Linked DNA regions of Homo sapiens. The protein of the gene in region 4 purifies or fractionates together with the protein of the main gene of each other region. This does not show direct contact. Each region holds a gene or a part of one and is shown on either strand. Other genes may lie near its edges.

Evidence for each region.
Region 1: the proteins of COQ4 (region 4) and TRMU purify together in Homo sapiens (affinity purification with mass spectrometry; one large-scale study listed by BioGRID and IntAct). This does not show direct contact.
Region 2: the proteins of COQ4 (region 4) and ALDH1L1 purify together in Homo sapiens (co-immunoprecipitation; one large-scale study listed by IntAct). This does not show direct contact.
Region 3: the proteins of COQ4 (region 4) and GLS purify together in Homo sapiens (affinity purification with mass spectrometry; one large-scale study listed by BioGRID and IntAct). This does not show direct contact.
Region 5: the proteins of COQ4 (region 4) and WDTC1 purify together in Homo sapiens (affinity purification with mass spectrometry; one large-scale study listed by BioGRID and IntAct). This does not show direct contact.
Region 6: the proteins of COQ4 (region 4) and APOBEC3F purify together in Homo sapiens (affinity purification with mass spectrometry; one large-scale study listed by BioGRID and IntAct). This does not show direct contact.

What each region holds. Positions count from the first base shown.
Region 1 is NC_000022.11:46,352,714-46,355,276, forward strand, and holds part of TRMU (mitochondrial tRNA-specific 2-thiouridylase 1), read left to right. Parts: intron 1-1,053; coding exon 1,054-1,154; intron 1,155-2,563. UniProt on the Homo sapiens protein: Catalyzes the 2-thiolation of uridine at the wobble position (U34) of mitochondrial tRNA(Lys), tRNA(Glu) and tRNA(Gln).
Region 2 is NC_000003.12:126,149,587-126,153,086, forward strand, and holds part of ALDH1L1 (cytosolic 10-formyltetrahydrofolate dehydrogenase), read right to left. Parts: intron 946-3,500; coding exon 820-945; intron 1-819. UniProt on the Homo sapiens protein: Cytosolic 10-formyltetrahydrofolate dehydrogenase that catalyzes the NADP(+)-dependent conversion of 10-formyltetrahydrofolate to tetrahydrofolate and carbon dioxide.
Region 3 is NC_000002.12:190,879,321-190,883,620, forward strand, and holds the start of GLS (glutaminase kidney isoform, mitochondrial isoform 1 precursor), read left to right. Parts: upstream 1-1,500; 5' UTR 1,501-1,764; coding exon 1,765-2,150; exon of another isoform or gene 2,151-2,248; intron 2,249-2,592; exon of another isoform or gene 2,593-2,668; intron 2,669-4,300. UniProt on the Homo sapiens protein: Catalyzes the first reaction in the primary pathway for the renal catabolism of glutamine. Plays a role in maintaining acid-base homeostasis. Regulates the levels of the neurotransmitter glutamate, the main excitatory neurotransmitter in the brain.
Region 4 is NC_000009.12:128,329,339-128,332,838, forward strand, and holds part of COQ4 (ubiquinone biosynthesis protein COQ4 homolog, mitochondrial isoform 1 precursor), read left to right. Parts: intron 1-2,814; coding exon 2,815-2,944; intron 2,945-3,500. UniProt on the Homo sapiens protein: Lyase that catalyzes the C1-decarboxylation of 4-hydroxy-3-methoxy-5-(all-trans-decaprenyl)benzoic acid into 2-methoxy-6-(all-trans-decaprenyl)phenol during ubiquinone biosynthesis.
Region 5 is NC_000001.11:27,290,132-27,293,631, forward strand, and holds part of WDTC1 (WD and tetratricopeptide repeats protein 1), read left to right. Parts: intron 1-2,083; coding exon 2,084-2,266; intron 2,267-3,500. UniProt on the Homo sapiens protein: May function as a substrate receptor for CUL4-DDB1 E3 ubiquitin-protein ligase complex.
Region 6 is NC_000022.11:39,039,456-39,043,663, reverse strand, and holds the start of APOBEC3F (DNA dC->dU-editing enzyme APOBEC-3F), read right to left. Parts: upstream 2,801-4,208; 5' UTR 2,704-2,800; coding exon 2,687-2,703; intron 728-2,686; coding exon 574-727; intron 1-573.

The DNA.
Region 1 (2,563 bases), on a different chromosome or scaffold from region 4:
TGATTAAGGACCACATGCAGCGATGGGATCAGGCGTCCGCGCTGGCCAGAGTGCTGCTCGCTCATGTGCAGACCCTTACTGCGGTGAGGCCTGCGTGAGCCTGTGCTGTGCCTGGTGTCAGGGGACAGGCTCCGAGTCAGTCACAGTGTGCAGTCCTGCTGTGGGGACAGAGTGCAGCCATTGTTGGGTTAGTACAGTGGCGGGGATGTGCCTGCCGGCGTGATGATCAGGCAGGTCTTGACACAGCACAGACCTGAGCTGTGGGACTGGCCAGGAGAGCCAGGCTGCAGCTCAGGTGTAGGGCGTCTTGCAGTGAATTGCACTTGGAGATCTTCCACCTCTTGTGGAGGGGAGACGGCAGGCGGAGCCGGGGCTAGGCATTCCTGAGACAGGTGGAGGTGACAGCTTTGCTTGGGACAGAACTGCCAGACAGGATTGCCCATGTATCTGCCAGCCCTGGCCCCAGCAGGAGCCAGTTGGATGACTCATGGCTTCCACCTGCAGTTCACTTCACTGAAGAAGGCTGCCGGCCCAGGCCACGTGGTAAATCCCATGAGGTTCTCTCTGCCTGTGTGCCCCACTGCAGGGGAGGGAGGCAGTGAGTTTGCCATCTGCTGTGTGACATTGTGAGGGTGCGCAGAGCAGCTGGGGGTAGCCCTGATGCAGTTACTGCATTAGATGGACACTGTGAAGACGTGCAGCTATGTCATGGGCTCAGCAAGAAGGGCCCCTGGCGTCACACAGGGCACCCAGCCGCATCCTGGGCCTAGGGTCAGGGGCTCCTACAGCTGGAACCTGCACCTTCTGGGGCACAAGGTGCCTTCTTTGTGGCCACCACACCCCATGTCCAGCCCAGGCCTGGACAATGATGAGATGTGCTCAGGTGCTTGGTCAGGGCTGGCTTTGGTGGTTGGAGAATCGTATCTTCCTAGTGAGTTACACCATTGCTGGGCCTGCTCTGGGCTGCCCTCCCAGCATCTGCCTTCATGATGAGGCGTGACATGTGGGCTGTAACTTGTTGCCCAGCCTCATGGAGAAACTGTCTTTCTGTAGGTTGGTTCCTGTATACCTTGGGCCAGAGAGCAAACATAGGTGGCCTGAGAGAGCCCTGGTACGTGGTGGAGAAGGACAGCGTCAAGGGTGACGTGTTTGTGGTGAGTGGGCCGGCCTCTGAGACAGCACTGGGGCTGGTTCTGGCAGGGCCAGCAGTGCTTCCAGACCAGGGCTTGAGAAGGCCTCCAGCAGCCGTGGCTTCCTGGAGGCTGTGACTAACTCTGTTCCTGTCCTTGGTCCCCTGCCTTTCCTGGGACTGGCCATGGTGGCAGGAGAGTTTTAAGGTATTCATTAGGCTGAGTTGTATGCTGGTCTCTTAATCATCCCTGAACCCCGATACACAGATACAGTTTCTCCAATTTTATGAAAGAGGACAGCGACGCCCAGAGCTTGGGTGGCTCATCCGGTGGAGAGGGCATGGCCTCAGTGCCAAGGATGGTGCCCACCATGGTAGGATCCAGTGAGTTGTTGTCAGGCAGGTGCAGATGGCCAAGCCAGGATCAAACCAAGCCTTCCACCACAGTGGGGACCTTACCACTGTGACCCTGGCCTCAAAGCAGGGCCGCTCAGTGGCGGCAAGCTCACCCCACCTTCAGGGGACCTTGCCAGTGTCTAGAGGCATTTTTGGTTGTCACAGCTTGGGTGGAAAAGCAAGGACGCGGGTGCTGCTGCATCTGTGGGTCAGGCCGGGGATGCTGCTTGCCGTGTTCAGCACAGCCTCTTCCCTGAGTGACCCGGCCTCCACCTTGGCGCGTGGAGCTGAGAAGGCCCACTCTCAGCACCCTGGCTGCCGGCTCATGTTCTGGCACGAATGCTGGGGCGCCTTCTCTTAGACGGAGGCGGGGGCCAGCAGGCCCCACCCACCGATTCCAGGACATCTCCTTACTAGGAAGACCTGTGGGGAGAAAAGCCTGGCTGCGAATGAATTAAATGATCTAGATTTCAGTTTGCTGTGAGAAGACCAGAAGGGTTAACCAACGGCCTCCTGTCCCTGGACGGGTCTTGGTGCCTGCTTAGAACCCAAAGCCCTTAACTTCATGCTCCTCGTCCTGCTTCAGGGGCGGGGCTTGGCACAATCCCAGGAGGTGCCAGGTCTCAATGGCCCGAGGCCATGGGTGGGTGACAGGGAGCAGGGGCCTCAGAACCAACCTAGGGTATCTGGGGCCCCCCAGACCAGGGCCAGTCCTGGGGCACCTGTGGGAAGCCAGCAGCTACCAGTCCCTCCTTTCTCCTCAGCCATTTGGTGTGTGGAGGAATTCCTGGGGTGGCCTTGAGAGAAGAGCCCGTGGTGTGGCTGGCCCCTGTCCCTGCGAATAGAAAAACCAGTCCTCGAGGGGGGCCGTGCTGCTGCCCCACAGGTGGTTGCAGGTAGAGGGCCTGAGTCAGACTTGAACCTGCAGCATTCACTGTCATGGGCTCGGATCTCACCCCTGCCTCTTGCCCACTCTGACATGGTACTTCCTTCCTGGGCCTTAGTCTCCTCATCTGTAAAATGGGGATTCAAAGGCCC
Region 2 (3,500 bases), on a different chromosome or scaffold from region 4:
GGAAGTTGCTGGCTCTCAGCACCTTTGGATCACACAAATGCCTCATGTCCATCCTTGCTGAGCCTTGCCGCACATGTGCTGTTAACACCCAAGGTCCCCAGCTGTGCCCACCTGACTCTGCCCCTCACCCCCTGGGCTCCAGCTACAGTGCCCTCCCATGGTGACTCCCTGAACACAGGGAGGCCTCTGCCCTGTTAGGGCCTTGCCATTTGCTGTTCCTTCTCTCTTGAAGGTCTTCCCCCAGATCTCTTCTCTCCACCCAGGGAAGAAGGATACAGTGGGAGGGAGCATGAAGGGTCAGGAACAAATTCCAGGAAGTGAGCATGGATGGAAATTCATGTTGAGAAGACTGAGTCTTAGAGACGAAAGCTCCCTACAGCATCATATTGGGGCAAAGCTGGATTGGAGACCAGGTGTGCCTTATGGGCAGCTTGTGTTGGTCACAGCCCGGGATGCTGCCTCTGGTGCAGCCTTTCTGGAAGGCTCCAGTGCTCACATTCTAATCACAGGGACATGGGCTTGACACCTGACTCTTTCAAATATTCCAGGAGCTTCTGTTTCACTTATTAAGTGTTGACAATGAGCCCCTAGAAGAGTCAGACTGAACTGGCCAGATCCCAGGGCCCCAGTTGCAGAGGAAGGAGCAGCAAGAAGACAACAGAAAGCTCCAAGACGAGATAGAACCAACACTGCACCTGGAGCCAAAACAGACACCCACAGAGGGCTGGCGCTGCCCAACTCTGGGGAGTGTGATTTGCAGAACACATGTGCACGGCACAACCTGCCCAACTGGATGGCAGCCCTGAAGTTGCCTCTTACCCGCACAGCCTCCGCAGTAACCAGCTCTGCCTCTGTCAGCTCAAGGACACTGCTGGCTGCCCCCTTAAAGAAGTTCGAGGCCAGGATCATTTTGCCATCCTCCAGCTGAATATTCTTCACCAGCAGCTGCAAAAGGAAGGATTTCTTTTCTTTTCTTTTCTTTTTTTGAGACAGAGTCTTGCTCTGTTGCCCAGGCTGGAGTGCAGTGGTGCGATCTCGGCTCACTACAACCTCCGCCTCCCGGGTTGAAGCGATTCTCCTGCCTCAGCCCTCCTGAATAGCTGGGATTACAGGCGCGCACCACCATGCCCGACTAATTTTTGTTTGTATTTTTAGTAGAGACGGGGTTTCACCACATTGGTCAGGCTGGTCTCGAACTCCTGACCTCATGATCCATCCACCTTGGCCTCCCAAAGTGCTGGGATTACAGGCATGAGCCACTGCGCCCGGCCAAAAGGAAGGATTTCACAGTTCCTGTGGTCGGACCTGAGGCAGTGATGAAGGTGTCCCACAAGGGGTGCTGTGCTGGGCGCTCCAGCCTTGTCTCCAACCTTCAGATGAGGAAGAAGCAGGGAGTCTCAGATTAGTGATGAGTTCAGAGTGGGGAGGCCACTATTCCAGGGACACAGAGGGAATTGCAGAGCTTGTGTCCCCTACCAGCTGCTCGATTTTCCATCACCCACTCCCACCACACTTTCACTTTGTTTTTAAGTGTAATGACTTTATTACTTCTATAAAAAAGGATTCCTACTGAACAAAAAAAGAAAACGTCATTCAGGCACCACATAGAAAGTCAACTTAGAAAAAAAAACTAATCTTGCAATCACCCAGTAGCTCCCAGAACTGCCACAGAAACACCTGGAGAACATCACCAGATGCCTGTGTGGGATACAGAGGTGGGAAGAGGAGAGGCTGAAAAAGGGTCTGGCCGGCCCTGCAGTCTGCAGCTTCAGGATAGCACTTCAAGCTGGTCCCAGGTAGAGCCTGCGTCCAGCCATCAGTTCAAGGGGATTCTGGCTGCCAGACATGAACTGCCCCCATTGTAGCTCATGACTCTGGGCTACTCTAGTGTCTGCCTCAGATTTACTGTATTTAATAAGATGTTTGAATTGTTTGGGGCCTGCTTGTTTATCAATAGTTTTTCAACAAATGCTTTTGTTAGGGGCCAGGAAAAAAAACACATGTACAAAAAGAGTTATGGATAAGCTCATGGGTGGGTGCATGTCACTGTGCGTTAAGAGTGGCTGTGTAAGAATGGTACTCTGTATGCATGCTCTGCCAGAACTGGAACTTGCCTCTCGGCCTGACCCTCGCCCCATTGCCTTTCAAAGATGTTCTGGAGCTTTCTGCAAGCTAAAGCCCAGCCAGACTCCACAGGGCGTGGCTGAGAGATGCTTCAACCCAGGGTCTTCTGGGTTGATCTGTGGGGAGCAGGGTGTGTGTGCTCAGCTGGTCTCTCCTCACTCCCCTCCCACCCTGACCACCTCTGGACAGTGGACAAAGCTCTTGTGAGAGAGCTGATAACCCCAGCTTCCTCTTAAGACACTTAATTGCCTTCTTTGCATTCCTGTCTTTGCAGGTCTCTGGACAGATGCTGTGGGTGCCCTGCTCAGACCCCTGTGGCTGGTGCCCTGTCCTCCAGCTGCAGCAAGGGCTGGATGATAACGGCCTGCACTGTCCCATCCTTGCTTGCTGTGGATGGATAAGAGCTCCTGTACACAAAGAGGCCGAGGGATTATGCCTGGTGGGTCCTCCACCCCACCCCAGGGGCCACTGAAACCAAAGGCTGACAGAGGTGGGGACAGGCAGGTATAATTGGAGGGTGCAGTTAATACTCCAAAACCCACCCTGGGAGCAGCCCCAGGCTAGACTTCTCCTGAACCTTTACTTTTGCTTTGCTTTCCTCTGCCCTTACTGCCTCGCATGATTTTCTGGAACATTCCCTCAATAAATCACTTGCACAAGAATTTTTACCTTAGATGCTGCTTCTAGGGAACCTGACCACAGACAGATATTCTCTTGCAACTGCATATATCAATCTTGGATACCCAAAACACTACATTGCAGACATCAACAGCAGCCTAGACCTTCTGACAGGGGAGCATGGCAGACTGGACACCAAGAGCGAGCAAAGGCCAGGCCCCATACTGCCACGCCTCACTCTGGTAGGCCGGACACAGCAACACGGCTGGGGGTACCACGCCCATGGGGTTTGTCCGGACCCTGTCAGTGTGTGGGAAGATCCCTGCCTGCCCTCTCCCTACCCCCGGCTGCTCATGTGAGAAGGAGTAGTAGAGTGCATATGAACAGGAAGCTACCATGGCCAAGACCAGCATCACGGCTTTGGAGCCAGAATTTCAGAGTCTGAATCCCAGCTCTGCCACGGGCTAGCTTGGATGATCCTGGACAAGTTATTTAAATCTCTGTTTTTTTCCTCTATAAGGATATAATATTTATACATATCTCATAGTGTTGTTAGGCAGATTAAATTTAACGCATATACATTGTTCTGGTATAAAAGGTGCTCCATCAGTGTTTGCTGGTACCGTGAGTTGTAGTCTGCTAATAACAAGAGCAGGTGGCCGGCATGGCTCCCAAGGCTCTGCACGTGCTAAGTTACCATGGCATCGCCGTTCAAAGAGATGGGAGCTGAGGCACAGAGGCTTAATGACCCCACACCC
Region 3 (4,300 bases), on a different chromosome or scaffold from region 4:
TCACATAACCTGTAGGTACAGCCAGATTTCCTAATTATTAATCTATTGAAATATTTTACAGTTCACTAGATTACTAAATCCGGTTATCAATTAATGATGCACCTGACATACACCCTTCTAGTTTCATAAAAATCACCTCATTAGGCCGGGCGTGGTGGCTCACGCCTGTAATCCCAGCAATTTGGGAGGCCCAGGGGGTGCAGATCCCTCGAAACCAGCCTGGGCAACCTGGCGAAACCCCGTCTCTACCAAAAATACAAAAAAAAAAAAAAAAAAAAGCAGGTGCTGGCTGAGGTGGGAGGATCACCGGGGCCCCTGAGTTCAAGGCTGCAGTAAGCCGTGATCGCGCCACTGCACTTCAGCCTGGGCGACAGAGTGAGACCCTTTCTCAAAACGAACACACACAACAACACAGTAACAACACACCAACCCCCAAAACATCTTATTAAACTCTGTGGATCTACTCCATTTAAACCTAATTGTTTCAGGAAATAGTCTAAAAACATTTTTTTGTCCTGGAATGTAATGTGTATGTAGCCTCAGGGAATAACTCAGTTTATCAGGTTCTTGGCTGTTTTTCCACAGGTCCAAAAGGATAAATGGATAAAGTGATGCTGAAATAACTTAGAGAACCCGTATTCCAACGCTTCTATTTTAAAACAGTGAAGCAGTTTTTAAAATAGAAAAGTATCTACAGTTTTGCTTTCAAGCAAATAGCGTTAACGGAATCATTGCTATTCAAAACTATTTTTGAAGTATCGGTGTACATTTAAAAAAAATAATTTTTAAAAAAGAAAGCTGTCGTATTCTGGATTCCGCAACCCCCCCACCCCGCCTCGCCACTCGTCGCCCTCCCTCCACCTCCACCCTCCCATGGCTTAAGTCGCATAGCTGAAAGGATTTTGCTCATTTTTTCCAAAACACTTCACGTCTGGGTAGTAGCCAATCATGGAAAGTTTCAAGCAAATGTTACATTTGGGAGAGGGATGAAGCTTGTCCGGGGCTGCTCTCGGAGGAGTCGCCAGACGCCCTGACCTGGGGGCCAGATGCGAGCTGGGATCGGCTGAGTTCCGACAGCTCGGCCAGACTCAGCCCTGCCAAACCTGCTGACCTCACTGCCCTCGGCTGCGGGGGATCTCGCCCATGAGTCTCCCCAACAGCTCGAATTCCCAGAGTGGAGGAGCCCACTGCTTCATAAATGCGAGAACCCAGAGCCCCTAGTACCCAACTAGGCTAGCCTCGGAGTTGGCACGGCGTGCAGAAAGTGGCTACTGAGCAGCCGGGCCTGGCTCACCCGCTTCACACGTCAGTTTGACTCCTCTCCCCGCCCCCCACCAATCCCCCGCCCTACTCTCCGCGCACCCAGAGCCGAGAGAAATTTGACTGCCCTAATCGCCAATCAAAAGAGAGGTCGAGGATTTGAGCCAATCGCAGCGGGCGAAAGGGGCGGGCCGTCGGCGAGCGCTGAAGGTCTCTAGCCCTCCCCTGCGCTTTAGCCTCAGTGCGGAGCCTTAGGCGGAGCGAAGAGAACCGGTCGCGGCAATCCTAGCGCGCAGCAGCAGCAGCAGCAGCAGCAGCAGCAGCAGCAGCAGCAGCAGCACCCGCATCCGCTGCGGGAGTCCGAGCCGGAACCACACCCAAGTAGCTGCCCTTTCCTCTTCTGTCATCTCACCGCCCCACCACAGACCGCGTTCCCCGAGGAAACCGGCCGCCCACGCCCGGAGCATCCTCCCCTGTTGAGCGGGCGCTGACGGACCCGGCGGCATGATGCGGCTGCGAGGCTCGGGGATGCTGCGGGACCTGCTCCTGCGGTCGCCCGCCGGCGTGAGCGCGACTCTGCGGCGGGCACAGCCCTTGGTCACCCTGTGCCGGCGTCCCCGAGGCGGGGGACGGCCGGCCGCGGGCCCGGCTGCCGCCGCGCGACTCCACCCGTGGTGGGGCGGGGGCGGCTGGCCGGCGGAGCCCCTCGCGCGGGGCCTGTCCAGCTCTCCTTCGGAGATCTTGCAGGAGCTGGGCAAGGGGAGCACGCATCCGCAGCCCGGGGTGTCGCCACCCGCTGCCCCGGCGGCGCCCGGCCCCAAGGACGGCCCCGGGGAGACGGACGCGTTTGGCAACAGCGAGGGCAAAGAGCTGGTGGCCTCAGGTGAAAAGTGAGTGTCTCCGCGAGGCGCAGGAGGCCTCGTTCCTTTCGGGGCCCGGGCTCAGGCTGTGTGGGGCCCTGCGGTGGGGCGGGATAGGAGCCGAGGGTCTAGAAAAGAGAAAGAAAGAGGTGCCGGGCGGCCTGCGCCGTCTGCGCCATGTGATTAGGCCCGGCCCCGCCCGCGCCTTCCCCGCCCGCAACCCTCCGCCAGGCACCCACTTCCCTTCTCCGCCCCCGGCGGGGGTCGCCCTGGTGGGGCCGCGGTGGGGCCTGATGGGCTCGCCTGGCGTCCCCAGCGCCAGAGAGGCCGCTCCCCTGCCCGCGCTGCGTGCTCAGCTCCCTGGCTTGCGGCTGCAGCGCCTGGCCGCCCGCCCCAGCCATTCGTGGGCGATGCTGCACGAACATCTCCACCGAGTGACATTTAGGAGTTGGGCGTTCAGCAGAGCCTTTACCTTCCTGACTTGTCGCTTTTCCTGGCTCGTTTCCGCTCTGCCTGCCCTCCCTTGGTTTCTGCCATCATCCGGTTGGAAGCCAGATGTGACAGAGAGCTCTTTATATTTCGGGAGTGGCTACCTCAGGCACGTGTAGAGCCATCTGGGGCACCGGAAACAATGTTTCAGAAGTGAGATTAGGAGGAATCCGGTCATGTGGCCGAGAAGATGGGGCACGCAGTATAGACCACCTGTTTGCATAAGGGACCAGCTTTGGCTTGTCAGGTCTTCCGTGAGATGGGGAGATTTTTAGAAATAAAAGTTAAATAGCCAAGATGAAATGTGACGTAATACACTAACTCAGTGAAAAATCTGAGTTGAGTAGGTTTTGTGACTTCATTGTGATAGGATGTTGACTCATCCTGTATGTGTACGGCACAGTAGTTTAGTCTTAAAGCAAAACTGGTTTTTCTTAAACAATATGCAAAGCAGTCTCCTATATATTTTTGTCTTGTGTAATACAAATGGACCACTTTGTTTTCCCAAAATGGGTAAAAATTTACGGATCTGCTTTCATTATACCTTACTCTTTTTCTGGCTTTGTACGCTGACACTCTAACCTGTTTTGCTTCCCTTTTATTTCTGCTGCTATTTCCAGCTCTAGAGTTCCTTAAGTCAAACTGAAAGTGAGAACATTGTTATAATTTCAATCTCACGCCTGCTTGATGTTTTCCTGTAATTGAAGTTGGGACCTTCCAGAAACTTTTCTAAAGTTCTTCTCCCAGACTGAAAAAGATTATTTGAAAAAAATCACTTGATGATGGGCGAAATTTGTGGTATTTTGTGATGTTGGTTTTGTGCCACAAAATAGCGTCCTGACCATGGACAGGTTATTTAATATCTTGGGTTAGATGACTTAAATCCTTTCAAGTTCTAAAAAGCTATACTTCTGTTAAATTTGTACTTCTCTCATGTTTTAGGGACTAGAATGATAATTTAATCTCATCTGGGACTCACTTTTACTTTAACATCATCCGGTTTACCAAGGAAGTAACGAGTTTACATGCAAGTGCCCAAGGTACAGAATTGCAAAATGCAGTCACAACCGTTTAAAAGTTCATCTTAAAGGCTACAAGATGGGAACTGCATTCTAGTAAAATTATGTCTTCAGGTCTGTGTCTCTGCAGTGGCTCTAGTGCCTCTCTTTTTTTTCCTCTTTTGTCAAACAGGAAATTGAGCTTCTTCTGTGATTCACTTGTCCAGAAGTTTCTGGTTTCATTGCCTTTTTAATAAAAAATCACCTTTTAGCAAGGGCCTCAAGGTTGTGAAGAAAGTTTTTTAATTTGGTTAAAGTTTCTATTTCCTTAATGATCTGGTTTCCAAATGTAGCTTTCCCTCTTTGGCTCCTTTCATTTTGCCTTTATGTGACAAACATTTCTCTTATCCTGGGAGGTAAGCTCCCAGTTGATCCTGTTATCCTTTCTAATGCTTAGCCTGCAAAGCATAGGTCATCCCTCAGTCAGCAGTCCACCTGGTATGCTAGCACTCACTCAGGACTGTGCCAGATTTTATGTAGTATTATTAAAAGAAATAACCATGAGAAAATTAAATTAACATTTTGTAAAAGGCTTAGAACAATATTTGGCGTGTGTTAAATGACACATAACTATTTATTAAATAAATGAGAAAACATTGCTTCTTCATTATTGTAAAGCCTGTTAAAGAGATT
Region 4 (3,500 bases):
GCAAATTACTTTATCTCTCTGAGCCTTGTTTTCCTTATTTTTATTTATTTATTTATTTTTTTGAGTCTCGCTCTGTCACCCAGGCTGGAGGGCAGTGGCACAATCTTGGCTCACTGCAACCTCCACCTCCTGGCAATTCTCCTGCCTCAGCCTCCTGAGTAGCTGGGACTACAGGCGCACGCCACCAGGCCTGGCTATTTTTTGTATTTTTAGTATAGGCGGGATTTCATCATATTGGCCAGGCTGGTCTCAAACTCCTGACCTCAAGTGATCCGCTGGCCTTGGCCTCCCAAAGTGTTGGGATTACAGGCATGAGCCACCACGCCCGGCCCTTGTTTTCCTTATCTATATCTGCAGTAATAACAGTATTTACCTCCAAGATTGCAAGGATGAAAGGATAATATATGTAAAAGACACCCTAGGTGCCGGCACCTGGTGGATACTCTATGATCACCTTCAGCTTCACACAGCAGGCTAAGGCCATTCTTTGGGAACAGGAAGACCAGGCTGTTCCCACTGTGTATGGGTGCTGCTGAGTACTCAGAGGCAGTGGGCAGTTAAGAGGAGAAGAGTTCTGGGATCAGAAAAGTGCCCAGGACTGGCCTTTTATTCATATGTTCAAGAGGTGTTCATTCATCCAGGCCCTGGATCAGGCTACTGGAGGTAAAAGAATAAGTGAAACAGAGCCAGTCCTGCCCTTGTGTAGCAGACAGGCTGTCTGGATACTGTCCATAAAAATAAAATGTGATCGGCTGGGCACGGTGGCTCACAACTGTAATCCCAGCTCTCTGGGAGGCCCAGGCGGGTGGATCACGAAGTCAGGAGTTTGAGACCAGCCTGACCAACATGGTGAAACCCTGTCTCTACTAAAAAAAAAAAAAAAAATTAGCCGGGTGTAGTGGCACGTGCCTGTAATCCTAGCTACTCAGGAAGCTGAGGCAGAAGAATTGCTTGAATCCGGGAGGAGGAGATTGCAGTAAGCCGAGATTGCACCACGGCACTCCAACCTGGGCGACAGAGTGAGACTCCATCTCAAAAAATAAAAATAAAAATAAATAAATAAAATGTGAGCACGTAGGTAATTTTTAATTTTCTGCCAGCTACTTTAATAGCAAAAAGAAATTAATTTTTTTGCTATTAAAATTAAGGTGGAATTTTTTTGTTTGTTTTTTTGAGATAGAGTCTCACTCTGTTGCCCAGGCTGGAGTGCAATGGTGCCATCTCAGCTCACTGCAACCTCTGCCTTCTGGGATCAAGCAATTCTCTTGTCTCAGCCTCCCAAGTAGCTGGGATTACAGGCACCCGCCACCATGCCTGGCTAATTTTTGACCATATTGGTCAGGCTGGCCTTGAGCTCCTCAGGTGATCCGCCCGCCTCGGCCTCCCAAAGTGCTGGGATTGTAACCATGAGTCACCGTGCCTGGCTAGAATTGATTTTAAATATGCATCTTGTTTAGCCCAATATATCCAAAGTATTATTTCAACAAGTAATCAATTTTCTTTTTTTTTTTTTTTTTGAGACGAAGTCTCACTCTGTAGCCCAGGCTGGAGTGCAGTGGCGCGATCTCGGCTCGCTGCAAGCTCCGCCTCCCGGGCTTACGCCATTCTCCTGCCTCAGCCTCCCGAGTAGCTGGGACTACAGGCGCCCGCCGCCACGCCCGGAGAATTTTTTGTATTTTTAGTAGAGACGGAGTTTCACCGTGTTAGCCAGGATGGTCTTGATCTCCTGACCTCATGATCCACCTGCCTCAGCCTCCCAAAGTGCTAGGATTACAGGCGTGAGCCACCGCGCCCGGCCAGTATTTTTAAATCATTGAGAGTTTTACATTTTTTTCATACTAAGCATTTGAAGTCTCGTGTGTATTTTATATGATCAGCACATCTCGCTTGGACAACTTTCTTGGCCACATGTGGCAAGCGGCTGCCATACTGGACAGTGTAGGTCTAGGAGACATTAATACTCACATCCACTAAACATCAAGGTACAGTTATTTTGAGTGCCACTAAGAGGTGAATGATGTTTCCAGAGACCATAACATGAACCCACTTGGTCTGTAGGTTAGGGGTGGCCTCTCTGTGGTGGGGGGAAGGGATGGGGGACAGGGGACACTTAACCCAGGTCATGAAGGATAAGTAGGAGTTACCACAGTGAAGATGGAGGTAGTGGGAGAGAACACCCCAAGCTGGGAGCAAGTTATGCTAGGATCAGGGTCTTTGGGGCTTCATTATTTATTTTTAGAGACAATGTCTTGCTTGAGTGCAGTGGTATAGTCATAGCTCCCTGTAACCTCAAACTCCTGGGCTCAAGCATCCTCCTGTCCCAAGCCTCCTGAGTAGCTGGGACTATAGGCACACACCACCACACCTGACTAATTTTTGTATTTTTTTTGTTCTGGGTTTTTTTTTTCTTTGAGACAGAGTCTCTGTCACCCAGGCAGGAGTGCAGTGGTGCAATCTTGGCTCACTGCAACCTCCGCCTCCTGGGTTCAAGTGATTCTCCTGTCTCAGCCTCCCGAGTAGCTGGGACTACAGGTGTGCACCACCACACCCGGCTAATTTTTGTATTTTTTAGTAGAGACAGGGTTTCACCGTATTGGTCAGGCTGGTGTTGAACTCCTGATCTCAGGTGATCCGCCCACCTTAGCCTCCCAAAGTGCTGGGATTTACAGGCATGAGCCTCGGCCCCTGGCCAGTCGCCAGAGTTTTCTAGTAGGTATGAGTTAGGTGAGAGTTGTGACGGTGTCAGAGACAGACTGGCAAATCGGGCCCTGGGAACCATCAGGAAGGGTTCTAGGGGAGGCTCATGGTTGTCAGAGGGTCTCCCCAGACACCCGAGCACCCACCCGCTTCGTGGATGATGAGGAGCTAGCGTATGTGATTCAGCGGTACCGGGAGGTGCACGACATGCTTCACACCCTGCTGGGGATGCCCACCAACATCCTGGGTGAGTGCCCCCAACCCTGATGGCCTGTCTCCCTGGGGTGGCTTCAGGGCCAGGGCAGGGCTTGCCTATCTCCACCACCCTCTGCATCACCTGGCTTGGTGCCTCAATTTCTGCTTTACCTGAACATCTTAGTAGCATCTTTGCCACATGTCCCCCTTCTTTCTCCCACTGCCCCTCAGGGCTCCTGCACTAATGGAGCAGCAGAGCCCATCTTCAAGGCTCCTGGTGTCTTTTTAGGCTTTAGCTGCCTCCCTGCTCTGAAACCTCAGTAGCTCCCTAAGGCCTGCAGGAACCATCCTGGAGTGTTTAGCCTGGCTTATGGGGTCATGGGGTCCTCTGCGCCCTGACCCCAGGCTTCCTTTCCATCCCCTACTCCCTTCTGTTCACTCTTGGGCTCTCTCCTGTACTCCAAGCCAAGTGCCCCAGGGCCCAGCACAGGCCAGGACTGGGCACAGCTGACCCCGTAGAGATTAGGGAGGAACAGTGCCTCTCTTTACCCTGCTGTGAGCACCACTGGCCTTTCCTTCAGATAGCTTGTTCACCTCCCAACACATCC
Region 5 (3,500 bases), on a different chromosome or scaffold from region 4:
AGTGCAGTGGCGTGATCATGGCTCACTGCAGCCTTGACTTCCTGGGCTCAGGCGATTCTCCCACCTCAGCCTCCTGAATACCTGGGACTACAGACACGCTCCACCATGCTTGGCTAATTTTTCTATTTTTTTTGTAGAGATGGGGTTTCTCTGTGTTGCCCAGGCAGGTCTCAAACTCCTGGGCTCAAGTGATCCTCCCACCTCGGCCTCCCACAGTGCTATGATTGCTGGTGTGAGCTACCACACCTGGCCTTATTTTATTTTTACTTATTGGTTTACTTTTTTGTCTGTATCCTCACTAAATAGTAAAAGTAAACTCTCTTAGAGCAACTCCATGTCTGTCTTGTTCTTGGTTGTATCCCTAGAGCCCAGCACAGCGCCTGGCACATAGAGCCGCTTGATACATTTCTCTTGAACAGTTGGTCAGTGGCTATATACCTGGGAGGGGGCAAGCCACCCGGAAATGGTAAAATGGACTGTCCCCTTTTCCAGTGCCCTGCATTGTTACACATTTGCCTCTACTTCCCTTCATTCTAAAATGGTGTCGTTGCCCTTCTTTAACTCCTTTCTTCAGCTGTGACCTTAGAACTTCTTTCTTATCTCCCCAGCCTGCTTTAATCTGTCTCCCTTGAGTTCCTGTAGGACTTTGTGCCCTCTTTCCTTTTACAGATGAGGAATATCTAAGTCATATATAAATTATAACATAGTCAAGAGCAAGGCAGTGAAGTCAGACAGACCTGGGGTCAAATCCTAGCAATCGCACTCAGTATTTGACTGGGGTAAGTCACTGCATCCCTGAACCTCAGAAGACAGAATGCACTTTGTCAGTGGCAGGTCCAACTCTGTGTAGCACTTTTTGACCTTGGCTGACCAGATTTTGCCAGGGCCAGCTGGTAGAAGCGGAGCGTCTAGCGCATTGGGTAGGATCCTAAGTGTTTAGGCATAGGCACAGTCAGAGAAGGTGTCCTAGCAGAAGGTGAACATAAGCTGGGCCTTCCAGAACAGACAGGATTTGGATGAGCAAGGAAAAGCAGAGTGTATTCCCCAGCTTGAGCAGAGTTTGCAAAGGCAGAAATAAACATGGCATGTGCAGGATAAAGAATTCTGTAGTTATAATTGACCCACATTTAGAAAACTGAGGAATAAGGTTGGAGAGAAATGTGAAATTGAGTCTTGAAAACCAGACTGAGGAGTTTGGTAAAAGTAAACTTGTGCTAAAAGTATTGAGGAATCTCTGCAATTTTTTTGAGCAGGAGAGTGATGTAAAATAATATTTTAGGAAGAGCAGCCTGGTGAAGATGGCTTAGAAAGACAAGGTGAACAGCAAAGAGGTGATAACAGATGTCTAGGCAAGAGGGGAGAGCATATAGGTGATGTCCCCCCTACCCACCACTCTCTGAGGATACCTGTGTATTGGCAGCACAAAGTTTCCCCGTCTGGAGCGGTGGGAGTTTGCTGCTGTTTGGTAGACTTTTTGGCATTACCTTTACTGCGTGGATGAGACTTTTAGGCTTGCCTTGGCCCATGGTATATCTAGATAGCTCTTAGATGATCTGCAGAGTCTCTTTTCTGTCACCTCCATACCTTGTTTCATGAAAGAAACTAGATTAGGTAGGAACGGAGCAGTGTTTAAGATGCAGTCTCAGAAAGCTTCCCCAGCTCTGCACTTACTAGCAGTGTCATCTCAGTCAGGTTATTCAACATCTTTGAACTTCAGTATTCTAATGATACCTAGGGATGGCGTTAGGAATTAATTAAGGGGCAATACTGGACATAAAGCACATTTTCACTAAGTGTTGGTAATCAGTAGTAGTATAATAGTAGCAATAATACTAACATCTGTAGAATATGTACAATAGTATCCACCTTAGGAGTTCTAGTAGAATAGAATGTGTGAGAAGCCTACTACAGGTACCTGGCACACTGTGGACACTCAAGAAATGGGAGTTGTTTTTGACATTCTTATTTAGAAACAGGTCCAAAGTCCCTCCCAATCCTCTTGCATAACAAGAACTTATCTTTTCCCCTGCCTTCCTCTCAAGGACCCCAAGCCCCAATTCCCTAACTCTGTCCTCTCTCACAGCCAGTATGACCTTCGAGAGAACAGCAAACACTCGGAGGTGCTGATTGACCTGACAGAGTACTGTGGCCAGCTGGTGGAGGCCAAGTGCCTCACTGTCAACCCCCAGGACAACAACTGCCTGGCAGTTGGGGCCAGCGGGCCCTTCGTGAGGCTCTATGACATCCGCATGATCCATAACCACAGGTATGAATAGTTCAGCCTCCTGTCTCCTGTGAGTAAGTCCCCAGAGAACCTACTGCCCCTTTCCCTCACTGCCATTGCCATGCCCTCTTCTTCTATCACAGCTCACTGCAGCCTCAACCTCCCAGGCTCAAGCGATCCTCCCATCTCAGCCTCTCAAGTAGCTGAGACTACAGTCACACGCCACCTCGCTTGGCTAATTTTTTAATTTTTTTATAGGGGCGGGGTCTTTCCTTGTTGCCCAGGCTGGTCTCAAACTCGAGCTAAAGCAATCTTTCCACCTCGACCTCCCAAAGTGCTGGGACTACAAGCATGAGCCACTGTGCCTGGCCCCTTCTTTTATTTATTTATTTATTGTTTTACTTTTTTTTTTTTTTTTTTTTTTGAGACAGAGTCTTGCTCTGTCACCCGTGTTGGAGCGCAGTGGCACAATCTCAGCTCACTGCAACCTCTGCCTCCCGGGTTCAAGCTGTTGTCCTGCCGAGTAGCTGGGATTACAGGCACCTGCCACCACACCTGGCTAATTTTTGTATTATTAGTAGAGACGGGGTTTCACCATGTTGACCAGGCTAGTCTTGAACTCCTGACCTCAGGTGATCTGCCCGCCTCGGCCTCCCAAAGTGTTGGGATTACAGACGTCAGCCACCACACCCAGCCTGGCCCCTTCTTCTTTATGAAATGGACTTTCTTCAATTTTGTGATTTTTTAAAAAACTTAATCCTCGCTTATGTTGGAAAATATGAAAAGTATAAATTAGGCCGGGCGTGGTGGCTCACGCCTGTAATCCCAGCACTTTGGGAGGCCGAGGCAGGCGGATCACGAGGTCAGGAGATCGAGACCATCCTGGCTAACACGGTGAAACCCCGTCTCTACTAAAAATACAAAAAATTAGCCGGGCGTGGTGGCGGGTGCCTGTAGTCCCAGCTACTGGGGAGGCTGAGGCAGGAGAATGGCGTCAACCTGGGAGGCGGAGCTTGCAGTGAGCAGAGATCCTGCCACTGCACTCCAGCCTGGGTGGCAGAGTGAGACTCAGTCTCAATTAAAAAAAAAAAAAAAAAAGTATAAATTACCCATAATCTCTTACATAAATTCCTTATGATTTCCTTATATTTATTTATTCTTATAATTTCTTATATAAATCTCTTATAGTGTCTTTCTTAAAGAAATCACTGTATATAATATTTCCTGCTAGTTCTTATAACACTCAGAACCCCCACAGCACTCTCAGACCTGAGTT
Region 6 (4,208 bases), on a different chromosome or scaffold from region 4:
AATTAATGTTGAAGTAATATGTTAGCCACATTGGATTAATTAAATATTAAAATTAGGCCGGCGCTGTGGCTCACACCTGTAATCCCAACACTTTGGGAGGCCGAGGCAGGTGGATCACCTGAGGTCAGAAGTTCGAGACCAGCCTGGTGAATATGGTAAAATCCTGTCTCTACTAAAAATACAAAAAAAAAAAAAATTAGCTGGGCGTGGTGGTGGGCACCTGTAATCCCAGCTACTCGGGAGTCTTAGGCGACAGCATCGCTTGAACCCAGGAGGCAGAGGTTGCTGTGAGCCGAGATCGCGTCATTGCACTCCAGCCTGAGCAACAAGAGTGAAACTCTGTCTCAAAAAAAAAAAAAAAAAAACACAAGGCCTTTTGTGCAAAGGCAAACCCCCTCCACGATCCGATCCCAGGACGGTCCAGCAGGAAGGTCAGGGCCACGGACTTGGAAAGTGTGGGAGAGAAGGACACACTGGATAGCCCGCCGCCGGGCACTTCACTTATCAGTGCGTGGTTTGCTTTCCCAGCTGGCTTAGCTCCTGCCTGCAAAGTGATTGAAGTCCGGGTGGTACCTGGCCTCGAAAGATCTTTGCGTCCAAACGGGGCCTTGAGGGACCCTTTGTTTTCACTTCGTAGCACAGCCAGACGGTATTCCGACGAGAAAGGATGGGTCTATTATAAAAGTTGTAGGAGAATGTGTCTCGATACATTCGCTCCACTGTGTTTCTGAAGACACAAGAGAGAAACCAGCCAATGTAGAGAGCGCTCCCGGGAGCCCTCAGGGCTGATGTCCACTAAACACAGCCCCCTGCATGGCTCTGGGCCTCCCCAACCCCTCCACAGCCCTGAGAATTTTTGCTTCCTTCCCAGGCAGGAAGACCGGGGAGAGAGCAAGAAAAGGGGATGCTGGCATGGGCAGCAGGGGCAGGCTGACCTCTTCCAGCTCAGGGTCCAGCTCTGGTCGTTCCAGGAGTACATTCCCCACCTTCCCAGTATTTCTCCCACCCATTCTCCAACGCATTAGTAAAATGCAAAAGAGAACAAAGTTCTTGGCTGGACATTATGGCTCATGCCTGTAATCCCAGCACTTTGGGAGGCCGAGGTAGGCCCATCACTTGAGGTCAGGAGTTTGAGACCAGTCTCACCAACATGGTGAAACCCAGTCTCTACTAAAAATATAAAAATTAGCCAAGCGTGGTAGTGGGTGCCTGTAATCCCAGCCACTGTGGAGGCTGAGGCAGGAGAATCGCTTGAACCTGGGAGGCGGAGGTTGTAGTGAGCCGAGATCGTGCCACTGCACTCCAGCCTGGGCTACAAGAGCGAAACTCCATCTCAAAAAAAAAAAAAAAAAAGAGAGAGAGAATAAAACTATTCACCCCAAAATAATAGATTTTAACCTTTCAGCCAGTTCCTTCTGACATTTCACCTCTGTATATTACTATTGTTAAATCATGGTAGAACCGAATTCTGAGGCCCAGGCCACTCTTCTAAGTGCTGCGCGGATGTGAGCTCATGTGAGGCTGCCCTAGGCCCGCACGGGCCATTCCCATCTTACAGAGGAGGTGCCAGAGGCGCAGAGAGATGGGGTAACCTGCCCAGGCCACAGAGCTGGGGACGGATGGGGCTGGGGCCTCTTACCAGACCAGCCCTGTCCAGTCTCTGTGTCACCAGCCTTGCAGGAGGGAGCCATTGGGGACCAGACTCTCTTCTTACTAAATTTTAAAATAATAGCATTTCTCCTGATCATTGAGTTTTTTTCCCATATATTCCATGTTTTTTGTTTTTGTTTTTTTTTCTTTTGAGACGAAATTTGGCTCTTGTTGCCCAGGCTGGAGTGCGATGGGGCGATCTCGGCTCACTGCAACCTCCGCCTCCTGGGTTCAAGCGATTCTCCTGTCTCAGCCTGTGGAGTAGCTGGATTATAGGCGCCCGCCACCACACCCGGCTAATTTTGTATTTTTAGTAGAGACAGGGTTTATCCATGTTGATCAGGATGGTCTCGAACTCCCGACCTCAGGCAATCCACCCACCTCAGCCTACCAAAGTGCTGGGATGACAGGTGTGAGCCACCGCACCCGGCCACTATATTCCATGTTACTCGTGTCATTTATAAACAGTGAATGCTGATAGTGGAGGAGGAGCGTGTGTTTGGGGTCATCTGCATCCTCCTCTGCCCACAGTGGAGACATCCTTGGAAGATACGATTTATCTTGTGCTTCAGAGACCATTCCCTCCCCACACCCTCTCCTAAGACTTGCTATTTAAGCAAAGTAAATGTTACAGAAAATCCATCAAAGCACTGTGAACAAAATTCCACATTGCTCTAATCATCCTTTGGTTCAATTCTCCCAGTTCCAGAGTTCAGGAATGGCGGAAAGAACACAGAGGGAGCACCCTCCCAGGGCCGGGAGCACCAGCCCTGCCATGACTTTCGGTGGCGGGGGAGAGTCTCAGCAGGGCACCTGGGCTGGGGCAGGTGGGGAAGCGGCCTATTCAGAAGCAGCAGTGGGGCAACCACAGAGCAGGAAAAAGAGCCTGGCTGGGAGTGGCGGGGGCAGGGGAGCCAGAGGGGAGGGAGCCCAGGGCTGGGGCTGGGGCAGGGGGAGGCCAGGGCTGACGCCCAGCAGAGCCACCAGGCAGGAAGGGGCAGCAGAGGGGCCCAGCGGGTAGAGCGGGCAGCGGTACCTGAAGTGAGGCTTCATCCTTGGCCGGCTAGTCCCGACTAAGATCTTTGTCTGGAGCACCAGGGTTTCACTTTCTGCTCCAGGCTCCAGGTTTCAGGACAGCCCTCCCTAAAGTGACCTCCCAGGGCCTCGTAGTCATGGCCCCTCCCCCTTCCTGCTCAGGCGCTGGTGTAGGAGGCCCTGGGACGCTTTATCTTCCTCAGTCTCTCACCCTCTTTCTGGTTTTCTCTGGGGCCCTCCCCCTGGCAGAGGGACCTCTGATAAAGACAGGCCGCTCTGTGCGGCAGGACCCAAGGCAATTGCAAAGGGAAAGAGAAAGTCATTGCAGCCAGCGCCCGCGAGGTGGGTCCACACCAGGCTGAGCCAGCAGAGCACAAGCCCCTCCCCTGGTGGTCCCGCCCAGCTGGAGCCTCCTCTCCACCATCAAGACAGACAGGCTGATGCCTCCGCAGGGACTCCCGGATCCTGCCCTCGGGGATCATCCCAGAGACGGCCCCCACCCAGCGGCCATGGGGACAGGGAGGGAGAGTAAAGGGCCAGGTGTCTGCCTCTCCCCAGGCCTTCACCCTCGGAGGCCACCGTGGGAGGGAGGGACAGCAGGTGGGTGTGGGCCTCAGATGTCCCACCGGGATGCCATGCGCGCCCCCACACTGAGCTCTTTCCTTCCTGCTTCTCCTTCTTCCCCATCTCCTGCCCGGAGTTCCTCCCTGGTGGGCTGAGCTCTCGCCTCCTCTTGTCCCCATGTCATGGAAGAGCAGTGGCTGGTGTCCCAGGCCAGCCTGTCTGGAGCCTCCCTGCGCGTCTCACAGCTCCCTTCCCCTGGTAGCGTGTTCCCATGGCGCGGTGACCTAAAAATTACACAAGGGATGCATTTGGTTTTTTTGTTTGCTTTTGTTTTTTTGTGTTTTTTTGTTTGTTTGTTTGTTTTGAGACGGAGACTTGCTCTGTTACCCAGGCTGGAGTACAGTGGCGTAATCTCAGCTCACCGCAACCTTTGCCTCCCAGGTTCAAAAGATTCTCCTGCCTCAGCCTCCCATGTAACTGCGATTACAGGCACCCACCCCTACGCCTAGGCTAATTTTTGTATTCTTAGTAGAGACAGTGTTTCTCCATGTTGGTCAGGCTTACAGCCGCCCACCACTATGCCTGGCTAATTTTTGTATTTTTAGTAGAGACAGGGTTTCTCCATGTTGGTCAGCTGATCTCGAACTCCCGATCTGAGGAGATCCGCCCGCCTTGGCGTACCAAAGTGCCGGGATTACAGGTGTGAGCCACCGCGCCTGGCCACAATGTATAAATTTGGAAAGGAGATTTTATTTCTTGTTAAGGGTGACAGGCAGCAAGGTAGCCATCCCGCAGCCTGGGAAGAGCAGCCTCTGGGAAACACCAGAGACAGACATTTAGAAGCAGGAGGGGTTGGGGCAGGAGCTTTATGCTGAAGGGGTTGGCTAAACATACATATTCAACAGGCTATAGGAGGAGCTATGAATATTCATGTGGGTGGCTGCACTCCATGCTTATTG